Linked DNA regions of Homo sapiens. The protein of the gene in region 1 interacts with the protein of each later gene in a pairwise test. Each region holds a gene or a part of one and is shown on either strand. Other genes may lie near its edges.

The links.
Region 2: the proteins of ADCY9 (region 1) and PXYLP1 interact in binary tests that used the Homo sapiens proteins (3 or more experiments, as listed by UniProt).

Annotation. Positions count from the first base shown.
Region 1 is NC_000016.10:4,112,559-4,121,888, reverse strand, and holds the start of ADCY9 (adenylate cyclase type 9), read left to right. Parts: upstream 1-5,446; 5' UTR 5,447-6,199; intron 6,200-6,403; 5' UTR 6,404-6,446; coding exon 6,447-8,139; intron 8,140-9,330. UniProt on the Homo sapiens protein: Adenylyl cyclase that catalyzes the formation of the signaling molecule cAMP in response to activation of G protein-coupled receptors.
Region 2 is NC_000003.12:141,234,031-141,241,824, reverse strand, and holds part of PXYLP1 (2-phosphoxylose phosphatase 1), read right to left. Parts: intron 7,643-7,794; exon of another isoform or gene 7,507-7,642; intron 6,957-7,506; exon of another isoform or gene 6,865-6,956; intron 6,428-6,864; exon of another isoform or gene 3,678-6,427; intron 1-3,677. UniProt on the Homo sapiens protein: Responsible for the 2-O-dephosphorylation of xylose in the glycosaminoglycan-protein linkage region of proteoglycans thereby regulating the amount of mature glycosaminoglycan (GAG) chains.

The DNA of each region.
Region 1 (9,330 bases):
ATGAGCCACTGTGCCCGGTTCCTCTTCTTAAAATGATGCCAGTCATCAGATTTAGGCCATCGTGGTCCAGTACAACTGTTTCTTAACTAATTATGTGTGCAAAAGCCCATTTCCAAATAAGGCCACATTCTGAGGATCCTGGTGGACCTGAATTTTGAGGGGACTCCGTTCAACCCACTTCACAGCTCCTGCAGAGTTTTTCCTACACCCAATCCTGGGCTCCTCACCATTATTCCACACAGATGGGATGGAAGCTCCAGCAGGAGCTGTGCCAGGTGACAAAGCTGAGTGACAGACACCATGCTTTACTTCGAATCTCCCATCTGCTCTTTCAACCAAGCTCATCTTGTTGGGGCCACCAATCGGCACCTCCTTGCCTTAAAATGTGATTGCCAGCTGGGTGCTCACACCTGTAATCCCAGCACTTTGGGAGGCGGAGACAGGTGGATCACTTGAAGTCAGGAGTTTGAGACCAGCCTGGCCAACATGGTGAAACCTTGTCTCTACTAAAAATACAAAAATTAGCTGGGTGTGTGGGCGCATGCCTATATTCCCAGCTACTTGGAGACTGAGGCAGGAGAATTTCTTGAAACCTTTTTTTTTTTTTTTTTTTGAGGTGGAGTCTCTGTCGCCCAGGCTGGAGTGCAGTGGCGAGATCTCGGCTCATTGCAAGCTCCGCCTCCTGGTTGAACCCATTAAAAAAAAATAAAAATATATTAATATAACTCCCATATGCAGTCATTCAATGAATTTGTATTGGCCTCTAAACTGGGCATGGCTGGATGTAGAATCTATGGATGTGGCTAGATGGAATACACCTGGTTATGGAGGCACCTGCAGGTATTTTGGTGATCTTCTCCAAAGGATCTTTTGCTTTGCTGAGACGCCTGATCTTCCTGTCAATGTGAAGGTAGCTGCTGGAGGCTTGTGAACAGCAGTCAATGGTAGAGAAAAAATGTGGGTAAAGGCCAAGCGTGTGGCTCACATCTATAATCCCAGCACTTTGGGAGGCCGAGGCAGGAGGATCACTTGAGGTCAGGAGTTCAAGACCAGCCTGGCCAACATGGTGAAACCCTGCCTCTACTAAAAATACAAAAATTAGCTGGGTGTGGTGGCATATGCTCATAGTCTCAGCTACTTGGGAGGCTGAGGCAGGACAATTGCCTGAACCTGGGAAATGGAAGTTGCAGTGAGCTGAGATCATGCTACTACACTCTAGCCTGGGTGACAGAGTGAGACTCCATCTCAAAAAAAAAAAAAAAAAAAAAAAAAAAAAAGCAGGTACGTTCCTACAAACTCACCCTCATCAGTTGAAAGAGAAAAAGACTCAAAGCTTGTAACTGCAGTTTTGGACGCATGATCAGGCCATAGCAGGGAATCCCATCTTCCAGCAGATGGTTCTCCAAGATTGTGGTCCACCTGACAAATGAAATCACGTAGGCACTGCCGAGTCCTCAGGGGCCGGTGTGATGAGAATGGCTACAACTCAATCATTATGCAACTTATCTCAAAGCCTGTCATGGTTGCCACCCAGTCTGACCTCTGATATCCTGGAGCCAAGGTCCTCACCCATCATGTGAATTTGCATGTGAGGGAGGGTGAGGAGGAGACACTGAGGCAGGCAAGGCATTCTGCAAGCTTTTGCAGAGTTTTCATGGACACATTCTGATTCCCACTGTGTCCAGGTGGGAGTTCTGTACACATCACAGATGGAAAAAAGAAACTCTCTGTGGATTTGGCAGCACCCTGGATTGGATGTTTGAAGAAAGCTATTGCATCTGCCCCGTATCTTCTGTGAATCGGGTACCTTTATGCTTCTGGGAGGTCAAGAAGAACCCAGAACCCTCCAGTGACTTCCCTTTGGGTCTTGGCATTATGAGAAGATGGTTAACCTCCTTTATAGAACTCTCCTTCACATCCAATCCTTCAGAAAGCCTAATTGATCCCATCTTCTTAACCCAACCCCTCCCCTGGACATCGTTCCTAAGCCCCTTAAAGAAACAGATGGCGGCTGGGCACGGTGGCTCACGCCTGTAATCCCAGCACTTTTGGGAGGCCAAGGCATGTGAATCATGAGGTCAGGAGTTCGAGACCAGCCTGGCCAATATGGTGAAACCCTGTCTCTACTAAAAATACAAAAATCAGCTGGGCATGGTGGTAATCCCAGCTCCACTGGAGGCTGAGGTAGGAGAATTGCTTGAACCCCGGGAGGCAAAGGTTGCAGTGATCCGAGATCGCACCATTGCACTCTAGTCTGGGTGACAAAGCGAGACTCCGTCTCAAAAAAAAAAAAAAAGAAAAGAAAAGAAAAGATATGGATGGCATATCCTTGTACCTCCAGGGCCTGACACACAGTGCTGGCACCACAGCCCCAGTCCCCCGGGGTTGATGGCATGATTCACTCCCTGACCTGGAGACTGGGGAGGCTTGTCAGCTTATAGGTTTCCACAGCAGGCAATGTGGCCGAATTGCTTCCAGAGAAGTAGGGAGGTGAGTATGACCATTACTTGTGTCTAAAAATCCGACGTGACTAACTTACAAACACATAAGTTACCACAAATGATTTAGGGAGGAGGAAAGAAGTGCAGACAGGCAAGCTTTCAGATCGTTTCAGGAAACCAGGAAGCAGGGAGCACAGCGTTGCAGCCAGCAAGGGAAGACGGAAGCTGTGAGTCCTGGCTCTGAGGGCCTCCCATCCAGTTGGGCTGATGGATGAGACAGGTACAGTCTGTGCTGGGCCATCGTGAGGCTTGCAGAGGGTAGTGCCAGGGTCACACAAGGCGTCATGGCCTCAGAATTCTGAGACCTGGTTTTCCATCTGAACTCATCACCCTTAGTGGGAGACCTAGGGTGCGTTTCTCTTCAATCCTGGGTTTCACCTCTCTAAACAAGGGACAATAGTATCTACCTCAGAGGGTTGTGGCAATGACCAAATGTGTCACAGGTGAAAATGTCCAGTAGTTTCTGGCATTTATGACGTGTTCGGTCAATGTTAGTTCACTATTGTTATCCCATTTACTAAGCGAATGCATGTGACACACCATGCGTTTCTGAACCTCGTATGTGAGAGTGCCTGGCATAGAATTGATGTTCATTAAAGGTTTATTTTTTAAATTTTTAGATAAACTTATTTTGAAATAGTTTTAGACTTGAAGAGTTGCAGAAATACTAGCGAGTTTCCCTGTATCCTACATCCAGCTTCCCCTAATTTTTTTTCCCCCAAGATGGAGTCCTGCTCTGTTGCCCAGGCTGGAGTGCAGTGGCATGATCTCGGTTCACTGCAAACTCCGTCTCCTGGATTCAAGTGATTCTTGTGCCTCAGCCTCCTGAGTAGCTGGGATTACAGGCGCACACCACCATGCCCAACTAATTTCTGTATTTTTAGTAGAGACGGGGGTTTCACCATGCTGGCCAGGCTGGTCTTGAACTCCTAACCTCAGGTGGTCTGTCTGCCTCAGCCTCCCAAAGTGCTGGGATTACAGGTGTGAGCCACTGCACAGGGCCCAGCTTCCCCTAAAAATGTTAACGTCTTACCTAACCATAGTAAGAGGATCAGAACCAGGAAATTGCAGATCTTATGTGAATTTTGCCCGCTCTCCTGCTACTGTCCTTTCCTGTTCCATGTTCCCAACCAGCATCCCATGTTCCATTTAGTTGTTGTATCTATCCCCTTAGGGACGATTCCTAGATTGTGACAGTTTCTCAGTCTTTGTCTTTCAAGACCCAAAGTGTCCAAGGACACTTTTGATGGGTACTGGTTAATCACTTTGTAGAACAGGTCTCAATCTGGGTTTGTCTGGTGTTTTCTTGCGATTGGATTGAGATTACACACTTCTGCAGGAATACCACCACAATATGTTGCTTTTAGTTTTTTCCTCCTTTATTGTGGTAAAATACACTCAACATAACATTTACCATTTAAACCACTTTATTTTATTTTATTATTATTTTTTGAGATGGAGTTTCACTCTTGTTGCCCAGGCTGGAGTGTAATGGTGCGAACTCAGCTCACCACAACCTCCGCCTCCCGGGTTCAAGCAATTCTCCTGCCTCGGCCTCTCGAGTAGCTGGGATTACAGGCATGTGCCACCACGTCCGGCTAATTTTTGTATTTTTAGTAGAGATGGGGTTTCTCCGTGTTGGTCAGGCTGGTCTCGAACTCCCGACCTCAGGTGATCCGCCCACCTCGGCCTCCCAAAGTGCTGGGATTACAGGCGTGAGCCACCGCTCCCGGCCTAAACCACTTTAAAGTGTATGATTCAAGGGCAGTATGTAGATTCATCCTGTTGGATCATTTCTAGACTTTTTCATCATCCTAAAACGAAACCCCAAGCTGCTTATCTTCCTCCCCTAGCACCTGGCAACCTCCAATCTGTGTCGCCTCTACGGATTTGCCAATTCGAGACATTTCATCTGGATGGAATCATACGCTATGTGGCCTTTTTTGTTTGGCTTCTTTCACTAGCATAACGTTTCCCGGGTTCCTCCACACTGCAGCATGCATCGGTGCTCCATTCCTTTTTGTAGCCGAATAATATTCCATTGCATGGACAGATCACATTTTACTTTTATTTTCTAATTCAACAGTGAGACCTGGTGTGGGCCCCGGCGCTGGGCCTGGGAGGCGAGGGAGGGGATGGAAGAGAGCCCCGTGACTGGCAGGAGGCACTGTGGAGTGTGGGGAGAAGGGGTCGGGATCTGCATGCTAGAGAGAATAGGATTTTATTTACACGTGGCAATGTTTATGGAGGCCAATGCACAACTGCCATTATGGGACGCGGACTCCTTTGAAAGTCTCATTTGTGTAAAAGGAAAAGCAGTAGTTCATGAGGAGGGGGAGAAGGGCTCAAGGACAGCAAGGTAAACTACCCCTGGGGCGGGGGAACGTGGTCGTCGGTGGGCCCAGCTTTGGAGGCTAGGCCCGTGAAGGTCGCCCCGTGAGCAGGTCCAGGGCAGGCCGAGTGCCCCGGGGCCCGCATTCATTGCTTACAGAGCAAGGGGAGCCTCCCGGGAGGGAAATCCAACGGTTGGAAACTTCGATTTATCCCAAAGGCGTGCCGAGTGGGAAGGCAACATTTTGATTTCCCAAACGTTGCGGCCAGCGGCTTCTTCCACGGCAGGCGCCTTCAGGTCTCTCCGCAGGGTCGGGACCCCGGGCGGCGCGCGGCCTCTGGGACGCCGAGGGAGGGCGGGCCCACAGCGCCCGGAGCGCGGACAGCGGCCACAGCCCGCCGCCTAGAAGCGGCGCCGCCCGGGGCGGGGGGCGGAGCCGAGCGCGCGCCCCGCCCCGCCCCGCCCCGCCCCGCAGCCCCAGCCCAGCGCGCGCACCAAGGCGGGGCGGCGCGCGGCCCGTGCGCGTGTCCGGGGCCAGGAGGCGGTGGCGGCGAGCGCGGGCCGCGCGTGCGCGCTGCGGCTGGGCGAGGGGCGGCGCGGGCGCGCGTCTGTCAGTGACAGCGGGCGGGGCAGGGGCCGGAGATGGTGGCGGCGGCAGCTCTTCCGACATGAGGCAGCGGCCGCGGGGGACACGGCGGCGGGCGCGGCGGCGGCCGCATCTCTAGCTCGGGGAGGCGGCCCCCGGCGTGGGCGCGGGCGGGCGGGCGTCCCGGCCGGCGTCGCGGGAGCCCGGCTCTGCGGCAGCGTCTGCACCGCCGCCCGGCGAGGGGCCCGCGTCCGTGGTTCCACGCGCTCGGTCCCGGGACAGCTGCGGCCGCGGCGGGAGCGGCGGCGCACTCGGGGGGAAGCAGGCCCCACTAGACGGGCCGCGCCGACGGGCTCCGCGCACTCGCAGCCCGGGGCGCCCCCACCCCCAGCGCCCGCCGCCGCGGGCAGGGCCGGCCCGGAGCGCGGGGGGCGGCCGGGGAGCGCGAGCCGGGGGCGCCCGCCGAAGCTCGCTGCTCCGGGTCGGGGTCCGGGCCCGGGGCCGGCCGCGCGCCGCCTTTGACGCATCGGAGCGCGGCTCCTGCAGGATGGAGGGCTCCGCGCCGCCAGCGGAGTTGTTTGTGCGCAGGCGGCTCGCGGGGCTGGGAGCGCTCAAGGTCTGAACTTCCCTCCGGAGCCGCAGCTGGAGGAGGCGAGCGCGCGAGGAGGAGAAGCCGCGCGGCGCGGAGGCCACCCTCGGGGCGAGAGGCGCGGAAGGCGAGCGAGCAAAGCGGTCCCGGAGCCACGGCGGCCACGCGGCGGGGACCCCCGGGCGTTCTAGGTCCGTCCCGAGCGGTTCTCGTGCGCCTCGAAGGTGGGGGCGGTGGGGGCGGTGGGAGCACCGCTGAGCCGGGAACCACAGGAACAGATGGTGCCTGTCCAGGTCGCGTGCTGGAGCCGCCCCTTAGGACAGGAGCAGGTCCCGGGCCTCTAGGCGTGCATGCCTAGGTGGGAGCGCCGCTAACTCTCCCCGTTTTGCTGGCAGGTACTGGTGACCCCGGCCGGGGCAGGCCCCGGGACTCGACAACATGGCTTCCCCACCCCACCAGCAGCTGCTGCATCACCACAGCACCGAGGTGAGCTGCGACTCCAGCGGGGACAGCAACAGCGTGCGCGTCAAGATCAACCCCAAGCAGCTGTCCTCCAACAGCCACCCCAAGCACTGCAAATACAGCATCTCCTCTAGCTGCAGCAGCTCTGGGGACTCCGGGGGCGTCCCCCGGCGAGTGGGCGGCGGAGGCCGGCTGCGCAGGCAGAAGAAGCTGCCCCAGCTGTTCGAGAGGGCCTCCAGCCGCTGGTGGGACCCCAAGTTCGACTCGGTGAACCTGGAGGAGGCCTGCCTGGAGCGCTGCTTCCCGCAGACCCAGCGCCGGTTCCGGTATGCGCTCTTCTACATCGGCTTCGCCTGCCTTCTGTGGAGCATCTATTTTGCGGTCCACATGAGATCCAGACTGATCGTCATGGTCGCCCCCGCGCTGTGCTTCCTCCTGGTGTGTGTGGGCTTCTTTCTGTTTACCTTCACCAAGCTGTACGCCCGGCATTACGCGTGGACCTCGCTGGCTCTCACCCTGCTGGTGTTCGCCCTGACCCTGGCTGCGCAGTTCCAGGTCTTGACGCCTGTCTCAGGACGCGGCGACAGCTCCAACCTTACGGCCACAGCCCGGCCCACAGATACTTGCTTATCTCAAGTGGGGAGCTTCTCCATGTGCATCGAAGTGCTCTTTTTGCTCTATACCGTCATGCACTTACCTTTGTACCTGAGTTTGTGTCTGGGGGTGGCCTACTCTGTCCTTTTCGAGACCTTTGGCTACCATTTCCGGGATGAAGCCTGCTTCCCCTCGCCCGGAGCCGGGGCCCTGCACTGGGAGCTGCTGAGCAGGGGGCTGCTCCACGGCTGCATCCACGCCATCGGGGTCCACCTGTTCGTCATGTCCCAGGTGAGGTCCAGGAGCACCTTCCTCAAGGTGGGGCAATCCATTATGCACGGGAAGGACCTGGAAGTGGAAAAAGCCCTCAAAGAGAGGATGATTCATTCCGTGATGCCAAGAATCATAGCCGATGACTTAATGAAGCAGGGAGATGAGGAGAGTGAGAATTCTGTCAAGAGGCATGCCACCTCGAGCCCCAAGAACAGGAAGAAAAAGTCTTCCATCCAAAAAGCTCCTATAGCCTTCCGCCCTTTTAAGATGCAGCAGATCGAAGAAGTCAGTATTTTATTTGCAGATATCGTGGGCTTCACCAAGATGAGTGCCAACAAGTCTGCCCACGCCCTGGTGGGTCTCCTGAACGATCTGTTCGGTCGCTTCGACCGCCTGTGTGAGGAGACCAAGTGTGAGAAAATCAGCACCCTGGGAGACTGTTACTACTGCGTGGCGGGCTGTCCCGAGCCCCGGGCCGACCATGCCTACTGCTGCATCGAGATGGGCCTGGGCATGATCAAGGCCATCGAGCAGTTCTGCCAGGAGAAGAAGGAGATGGTGAACATGAGAGTCGGGGTGCACACGGGCACCGTCCTTTGCGGCATCCTGGGCATGAGGAGGTTTAAATTTGACGTGTGGTCCAACGATGTGAACCTGGCCAATCTCATGGAGCAGCTGGGAGTGGCCGGCAAAGTTCACATTTCTGAGGCCACCGCAAAATACTTAGATGACCGGTACGAAATGGAAGATGGGAAAGTTATTGAACGGCTGGGCCAGAGCGTGGTTGCTGACCAGTTGAAAGGTATGTGCACTGCTTTACCTCGGCATCCCCCCTCCCTGATCCTGATTGTATTAAATTAAAAAAAAAAGCTTCCAGCCTCAGTGTCTGCAGACAGCTCAGGTATCTCAGAATGCCTTACCATGGGGGGATCTCAGGGTCAGTGTGACTTTTCTTTCAGCGGGTCAAATATCACAGATCTGTTCACACTGCAGAAAGGGACGCTGTGCAGAGATGACCTAGACGCGACCTTTAGAAGGAAGGAGAACTTTGAACGTGCATAACCACTGGTTGGCTGAAATGTGGGGGCACGTCCGGTGAATGTAAGGGTATGGAGCCCTTCAGCATTCAGCACTGTTTAGCACTTAAGGAAATTGCCTTTGCATTCATTTGGTCACCCTGAAGTCCCATCCAAATGTTTCTCTCTGCCCTTTTTGCGAAAACGTGGAGAATAAAATCTTTCTCCTCTCTAGGCCTCACTTTGCTTATCCTCAAAATAGGGATAGGAAGTCGGCGCAGTCCTGCAGGTCTCTGGAGAATTAGACGGAGTTACTTACCTCTGAGTACACACTGTCTTTTATCTAGGTCTTTTTTTTTTTTTAAAAAAAGTTTGCATTTTCAGCTTTCAGCCATCATTTGTTTAAGGATATTTTATTATCATAGTATTTGCCTTAAGTGAAGAGCTTCATATTGAGCTTCTCCAGCCACCAGGTGATTTGGAAGGGAGAAACGTACCTGCCGGAGAGCTGGTATTCCCCTCCCTCATCCTCTCAGGTTTGGATCTGGTGCCTGGTCCCTGGTTTGAAGCTCCTTACTGCTATTCTTGATGTTTTTACTGGGCTGCTTGTTTTTTCTAATATAGGACAAAAGTCTTTGAGATCTGGAAAATGATATTAAAATAAGTAGGACGAAAAAGAAAGATTTTAAGTAATCTGCTACATTTCTTCCCCCACTTCCTCCTTTTTAAACAGTCCTTATGTTTTACTAAAATCTTCAGGATTGAGGGGAACATCTGTTGTGGAAGTATGTAGAGAAAATAACACTGATTTTTTTTAAAAGCCTGCTTTTGTGAAGCTGTATTGTATTTTGTGGTCCCCACACACTGCATACTTAAACAGTTAAAAGCCTCAGGAAAGGGAATCCTCGGAAGAAGTAATTAATAGTTCCAATCAGAGATGGCAGAAGTAATAGTTTCAATCAGAGACGGCAGAAGTA
Region 2 (7,794 bases), on another chromosome or scaffold:
AGCAGCCAAGCCCTCCTCAGATTCTGGCCCAAACTCCTCTGCAGACTCATCCCCTCTCACAGCCAGCCCATGAGTTCCATGGGGGCTGGTCCTTTTCTGCAAACCCTGTAAGGCCAGGCCCCATGGCACAGCAGTGTTGGACGGGTGAATGGCCACACCATCTCGCACGACTCTGGCACAGTCGACTTGCTGTTCCCCCTTTTCATAACTCAATGTCTGTGCCCATTCCACTCTCTTGGCCCAGATGTCTTCTTGACCTGGTTAACTCCTGCTTATCCTTAAACTCAGCTTAAGCACCACCTTCCCCTGGAAGCCTTCCCTGACCCCAAGGCTGGGTGACATCTTCCAATACTGGGCAACCACAGCCCTCAGAGCCTACCCCTCCCACTCTACTCATCAACACGACAGACTCATGTCAGCTTCCTTGCCCACCTTCCCCAGGGCTGGGTGGAGAGACAGCAGAGCAAGCAGCAGGTGCTCAACAGGTGTGTAGGGGAAGGGAGGGAGGGTGGGAAAAAGGAAGGGTGAGCACCAGGAAGAATGCTGCGGACGGAATAGCCCCATCACAGAAACCTACGACAAACTAAACAAGAATAAAGCACTACAGCCCAGTATATCAATATACCACTCATCAATTATTACTGAGGAAAACTAGCAGGAAGTAGTGGGAAAACACTTTTTAATGAATTAGAGGGGAATCAGGTTACTCTTTGTTGTGTCCTCTCCTCCCCTCCAGATGTGGGTTGGGGTGGGGGCTGGAGAGGAAGAGAAGCTTTGGAAGGTTGAGTGGGCAGGGGCACTTGAAAACAGGGAGCTCTCATAGGTTCCTCTGGCCTTGGGGGACTAAAGACCACTTCCTCTGGGGTAACCTCCAACTGCTGATGTGAATCAACTAGGACACATTCCCACAAAGCTGTTAAGAACATGTCCTGTGTCAAGACAGGGGGATAATGAGGGCCTCCCACTGTCCTACTGAGTCATCTGGCCCAGTTCCCAAAGGTAGGAACAGAAGCAGGGATTCAGAACAGATGATCTCCTGGGGATGAAGACGACTTTTGGCTGGAGCCTTCTTAGCACAGCATTTCCTTCTAAAGAAAACACCCCCACTAGCCCCTCAATATCCACTCATTCTTTCTTGTTAAGAGAATCCTGATTTTTGGGGGGAGGAGGGGGCAGACAGTGTAGCAGAGACTGCCAGCTAATTGTGATACCCATCTCCTTTCCCTCCTGGGCATGTGGCTGGACCACATTTCCTCCCCTTGGAAGGTATGCTCACACGACTGAGCCCTGGCCAGTGGAATGTCAGGGCCAGTAGTTCAGCACCTCTGAGCCTGGCCCACAAAATCCTCCCACACACCATCCTCCATGTTCCTTCCTCTTCAGCTGAGTGAGGCAAAGGAGCATGGCAGCCTTGAGAGCCTGAGTCCCTGAATATCCTCTTGGAGGAAAGCCCCAAGCAGAAACAGCCATTTTGGACTGTGTGTGAGCAAAAAGTGAATGCCTACCATATTTGAACCATTAAACATACTTTGTTTAAGCAGTGAGCCTTCCTCAGTGTGCCCCACTACACACTCACATGGCCCGTTTAACTGGGGGCAACCCATGTGATACAGTTCTGGCCATGAAATGTCAGGGGACATCTGGTTTGCTGGTGTTTTTTGCCATCATGAAGGAAAGGCCAAGAGAGTAACACAAGTGTCAGTACAGACAGATGTCAGCTGCTGAAACCAACACCAGCAATCACCTATCTTCACGCATTTTGTTACATAAGATAAACAAACCCCTATTTACTTAAGCCACTAAGCCAGGGCTTTCTGCTACTTTCAGCCAGACACATTCATAACTGATATGCTTTGCAACCACTCATCATTCATTCACCCAACTTTTATTGAGGCCTGTTTCATGCCAGTCCTTGTGCTAAAGGCCAAAGCTTTACAGATGAGCTGGGTATGGTCCCTGCTTTCTAGGGGCTCCCTATCAAGCTGGAAGAGAGGCCCATGAGCAGACAATCAGAATACACAGGGAATGGATGCTGTGGTGGCACATGATGATGTCCCAGGAGAGTGTGAGCATTGGGCAGTGGGCTGGCACTGAGGTGAGGCATTCCCAACTCCCCTTCGGGCATTTGGCACACAGAGTAAATAAACACTTCTCAAGCTAAAAAGCAAGTAAAAAGAACTCGGGATCCTCAGCCAAGCCAACTGCAATTACTTAGTGTAAGTAGAGTCGTTAAACACCATCAATTAATGCAGCTGTTTCAAGATAATCAGCAGTCATTAGAGCAAGATGCACAAGAGAAAAAAAATCATATGCTGCTAACTTAGCAATGCTAGAAATTATGTGAACCGAGGATGAGACAGGCTTGCTTAGATCTTCCTGCCTGCTGACGTTAGCCACCTCCCAAAATATACTTTCTTTCTCAAAGAAGACAGTGATTTTTCACTTTGAAGACAGAGCCAAAAAAAATCAACCATCCATGCCATGACCTTCGACCATAAATGCCCAAGCTTTGATTTTTCAGGTCTGTGTTTCCATTAGGGACTGCAACGGAGACAGACACACTGGCGACAAAAGAGGTTCCAGTCTGGGAAATCAAGAGATGATCATGACCAGAGAAGTCAGAGCACCTGGGGAGCCATTTGTAAAACAGAGAAAGGGTTTTCCCCCTTTTACCTTAATTCTCCCTACATACAAAAGGTTGGCATTATTTGCTGTTTCTTTGTTTTACAAGTGTGGGGCAAGGTTTTTTTTTTTTTTTTAAGACAAAACTTCATTTAAAATTTCCAGGACATAGGTCTACCCTTGAACAACACGGATTTGAACTGAGCAGGTCGACTTACACGTAGGTTCTCTTCCGCCTCTGCCACCCCTGAGACAGCAAGACCAACCCCTCCTCTTCCTCCTTCTCAGCCTACTCAATGTGAAGACAATGAGGATAAAACCTTTATGATGATCCACTTCCACTTAACGAATAGGAAATGTTTTCTCTTCCTTATGATTTTCTTAATAACATTTTCATTTCTCTAGCTTATTGTGAGAATACAGCATATAATACATACAACATACAAAATATGTGTTAACTGACTGCATTATCAGTAAGGCTTCTGGCTAACAGTAGGCTATGTATAGTTACAATATTGGGGATTTAAAAGTTATACTTGGATTTTCAACTGTGGGGGGCCATGGTGGGGGGAATCAGTGCTCCTAACCCCTGAGTTGTTCAAGGGTCAACCATAGTTTAAAGTAAATAAAAATAAGCTGGTTGCCACTAAGATAACTGATGACTGGTTTTCCAGTCTGACTGCTGACTTATCGGTATGAAGTATTCCAGTGTATGTTGAGTACAAGCTGGGCTAATCACGCTCAAACGAGGCAGAGAAGCACTCGAGTTCCTGAAGCAGCAATCACAGAAGGATTTTCTGGTCGACAGCCCATTGCTGGAGGCCGTGCCAGCTCCGTGATGGCAGGTGCTAGTCGGGCAGGCTGCCATGCTGGAGCCTCTCTGTAGGACGCACAGAGCAAGCAAAGCGAGGTCTGAGGAGGAAGGTCCTCTCTTTCCAGCACCAGTTAGGAAACCCATGCCCGTCAACATAGTTTCTTTGGGTCAAGAAGTTTCTAGCTACGGCAGACACAGGAAATGCAGTGTTCTGGCTTCCTGCCTCTGGCTAGTCCCCTACCTGCTCTCAGGAGCAGCTGTGCCATTTCTTGCTCAGAGAACTGGGTCTCTGATAGTACCAAAGGTTTCTGGGGCTGCTGAAGAGCCAGTCCAGTCCAAAATAGTAGCCAGGGCAGCATTCTGTCAACCAGGACCAAAAATAGTGTTGGCAAAACCAGGTGACTAAACAGATCTAGGATCTCTTATCATGCTTCCCACTAACAACCTGTGGCCAAGAGTGACAGTTAAAACAACCAGCATGTGTCAGACACAGATGAGTCAAAATGAGTGCCTGTTTCAAAGAGCTGGCAAGGTCACCACCCCATGGTCAGCCCCTTCACAGCCTCTCATGGCTGTAAGTGAGCAAGTGCCTGGAAATCGATCTGCACCGCCATTCATGTCCTTCACCACAAACTGAAATATAATGTCCTCTGTTCCATGAGGACAGAGACTATTATCCTGTATCCATCATCTCAGTGCAGTCAGTTGGCGCCTAAAAGGTAATTTTAAGAAACAAATGAATAGGAATAGCAGCTAACATTTTTAAAGCATGTACCATGTGGTAGGTGCTTTTCTAAGCCCTCATCATGTATTATTATATTTCAGTTTCACAACAGTACCATGAAGTAGGTATTATTATCACCACCCAAATTTTACAAATAAGGAAACTGGCACAGAGAAGTAACTTGTTCAAGGGTACATTGCTAGTAATGGTAGAGCCAGGGTTTAAAGTCAGTTTGGCCTCTGAATGTACACACTCAATCACTGCACTGTGCTGAATACACAACCAACTCAGGTACTCTAGTATTAGGAAGTCATCAACAGAGAACCTCTGACATCTACAAACCTTGAGAAGTCCTTTCAGGTTTCTGGGTGCTACATACAGAGTTTTTGTTTGTTTGTTTGACTTGCAGAAAGTTTTAGAGAAAACCAATGCCTATTTTTATCCCTAAGAATAGGACCACCTACAATTTTCAAAAAACTATGTAACCACATTTGGTTATCAAGCAACGTGGGCAGGGATATCCAGGTTTACATAGTATTTCTCTGCTTATGAGATCTGAATTCTAGAGGAAGCCTTTTAACCATCCCAAGGTCCCATCTCCCCATCTCTAAGCAGATCGCAGGCTTATTGAATCAAATGAGATATGGACAAAGTTGCTTTTTTATATAGTAAGGTACTGTATAAACATAATGCATGATCCTAATAATTAATATAACTTGCATAAAATATTATATACTTATTAATCTATACTTGCCAAATTTTCTATACTTTCAAGATAGTTCATATTTATATCTATGTTTTAAGATTTAAGCTTAATAGTTTATTTCTGTAAGTCCCTCCATTATTATTTCTGAGCTTCCAAAAATTTGTTCTACAACTTTACTAACTTTACGGTAATCCAACTGCCACTTTCATTTTAGAAGCATAAAGCCTTAACAAGACAGTAAATGTTTAATTCTAACTAGATTCTCCTATGTCTGCAGAGAACAAACAGCAAGTAAGAGCTTCATTTTATTTTACGGTTAAAAGCTCAAAATGATACTGCTGGATCTCTGAAGGCCTGAAGGTTGGTGTTAGATCCAAGAATGAGGTAAGCTTAGGAAAGCAAGCTGTGGTTTTGTTGGTTGAAAAGACACATGTCTCTGAATAACTGAGGGGTGGGACAAATAGTATTCAAAATGATTTGTAACTTTAATGTAAATGATGGCTGTAACCACAAACAGAAGTGGAGGAGGAAAGGGGAGAGAGTGGGGGCATCAAAACCAGGTGCAATAATTTTCATCTTAATATGCTTTTTAATCAATATGCTATTGATTACAGCTCTTTCTGAGGAAGCTGGTCACACCCAGGGGCATAAGGGTGGCGAGCAGGTGACAAAAGGATGCCCTGTAAACTGAAACATGAGTGTGTAAATTGGGGAAATGATTCTGCAAATACAAAGAGAATTTTAAAGTTACTACAGTCTCTACTACCACATGTTTGAGTTCCCCCAAACTCTCCTCCACCCTCGAGTACGCAGCTCAGAGGGAGCTCCACTGATGGAGGGAGGGGCAGACGCATGCACAGATGACTGTGGGCCAAGGGAATGAGGTGAAGGGTGCCTCCTGACTGCAGAAACTACTCCCCAAGCCGCCATCCAGTTCTTCTTCCATGCCTTTTTAATCATTAACTTCTTCCAGACTCCTGAGATTGTTCCCGCCATCACTGCAGACTGAACTTTTTCCAAAAGCCAGTGGCTTCCCCAGCCAAAGTCCAAAAAGGGTCAGAGAAGCCTGCTGGTTTTGAGGGTGGAGGATAAACAGGCCAGAGTCTGTGGCTCAGTTAGGTGTTAGTTGGCCAGGGCCCTCCTGCCTTTTGGACTCAGAGCGGACCCTGAAATTCATTCTGGGTTCACGGGTGCCTCCTCGTGGCTGCCATGCAGCATCTCCAGGTTGAGAGGCTCCAATGGGCCGTCGTTTACCTGCAAGGCTGCACAGCAGGTTCAAAAAGAGTCCCTGGGAGATGCTTCTATCAAAAGGCCCACCATCCTACTAGAAAGCTGCTCCCTCTTCTTCACCTCCTAAATACAGGTGCACAGACCTTCCAAGCCACTGCTCCTTTTGTCACTTACCTAGACTCTCCCCTCAGCACCTCAGGTGAGATGAAGTGGCAATGGCTGCAATCTGAAGTGGCCATGGGGGCTCTCCAAGTGGTACCCTGTCTCCCTGGAAGCTTCCTCCATTGGAAAATGGGTGATGTCAAAGGGGACTGGGGCTACAGCTCAGGGCCTATAAATTAAGCCATGGTAAAGTGGCTTCCCAGGCCAAACCCCAGACCAATCTTGCTCAAGCCATTATTTCCAAAAGGGCACACACCTCATTCAAAAACTTCAAACAGCTCAGTGCTCTCCTGCCGTGCTAAGCCCAAGTCTCAGCTGGCTTTCAAGGCCTTCTCAAAACCAGAATGATGGGCCCAGCAAATGGATTTCAGATTCCCATGGGGTCATTTTTCCTATCTCAGTGACTTTGCTCCTAACTGGTAACCCCTACACTGGAATGTGGGCACACTTCCTTATCCACCAACCAGGAACCTTGTCCAGGGACAGGTTCTGGGGCCAAAATCTCCCCCTATGAATTTTCAGGACCTTGAACATTCTCCTATCCTTTCTCCCACCCACCTCTAGATAGTAGTATGTCTCTTTCTCCCTCTCCTCCCTTTCTCTTACTCACAGACTGCAGGCATTAATTAAACCTCTTCTAGAAAACAGATTTTCACCAGCTGCAGGAATTCTGAGCCAGACCTGAAGACAGAGACAATCTGGGTAAGAAAGATAAGTTCGTGACAGCCAGGGGCAGTGCAGGCTCCCACAGCCAAGTGGCAGTCTCAATTTTAGCCCTTTCCAGATTCCCCCACAAAAAAAGGGGGACATGAGGTGTTCCCACCCCCTCAGCATTTGGCTGTACTGCCTGGGGGTGGCCTTTGACAGAGGCACAAGAGCTGGACCTTGCCCCATCTGCCAGTGGGTTATAGCCACCTCCAAGAGACCAAAGCACTGGCCCAAAACACCAACCTCCCTCCCACCAATAGAGCTGCAAGCCACAGTGCCAGAAATGTGCAAGAAGAGGCACTCCCAGCTCGCCACAGGAAGCAACACCCACTGGAGTGGGGATGGTGCAATCTGAAGTGGCCAGTGGGGCTCTGCAAGTGGTACCCTGTCTCCCTGGGAGCTTCCTCCGTCAGTGGGCAGGGATAGGAAATGTTAAAGGGGACTGGGGCTACAGCTCTGGGCACTATAGGTTAAGCTATGGTGGACTCAACCCTCAGCAGACAAACTTAGTAGCTTCCAAGGGCGCCCACCACCACCTACCCCAATTCTTGAATGAAGACAACTGATTTTCTTCATGGAAATCTTGGAGTCCCCACTGAGGTTAACGACCCACCATCAGAGACTGATCCGTAGATTGCACTCACTGCTCCAAACACACACAAAAATGAGTTTGTCTCTGGTGATATGACACATTAAAAAAAAAAAACTGTTGAATTTAAGGGTAACATTTTGAACAGTGTAGCAAAGTGTAGAAAACATTGGTTGTGAACTCAGACTAATTCACCGGGGCATCCATTTTTTTTCCTCACAAACACTGAGTACCCCTAT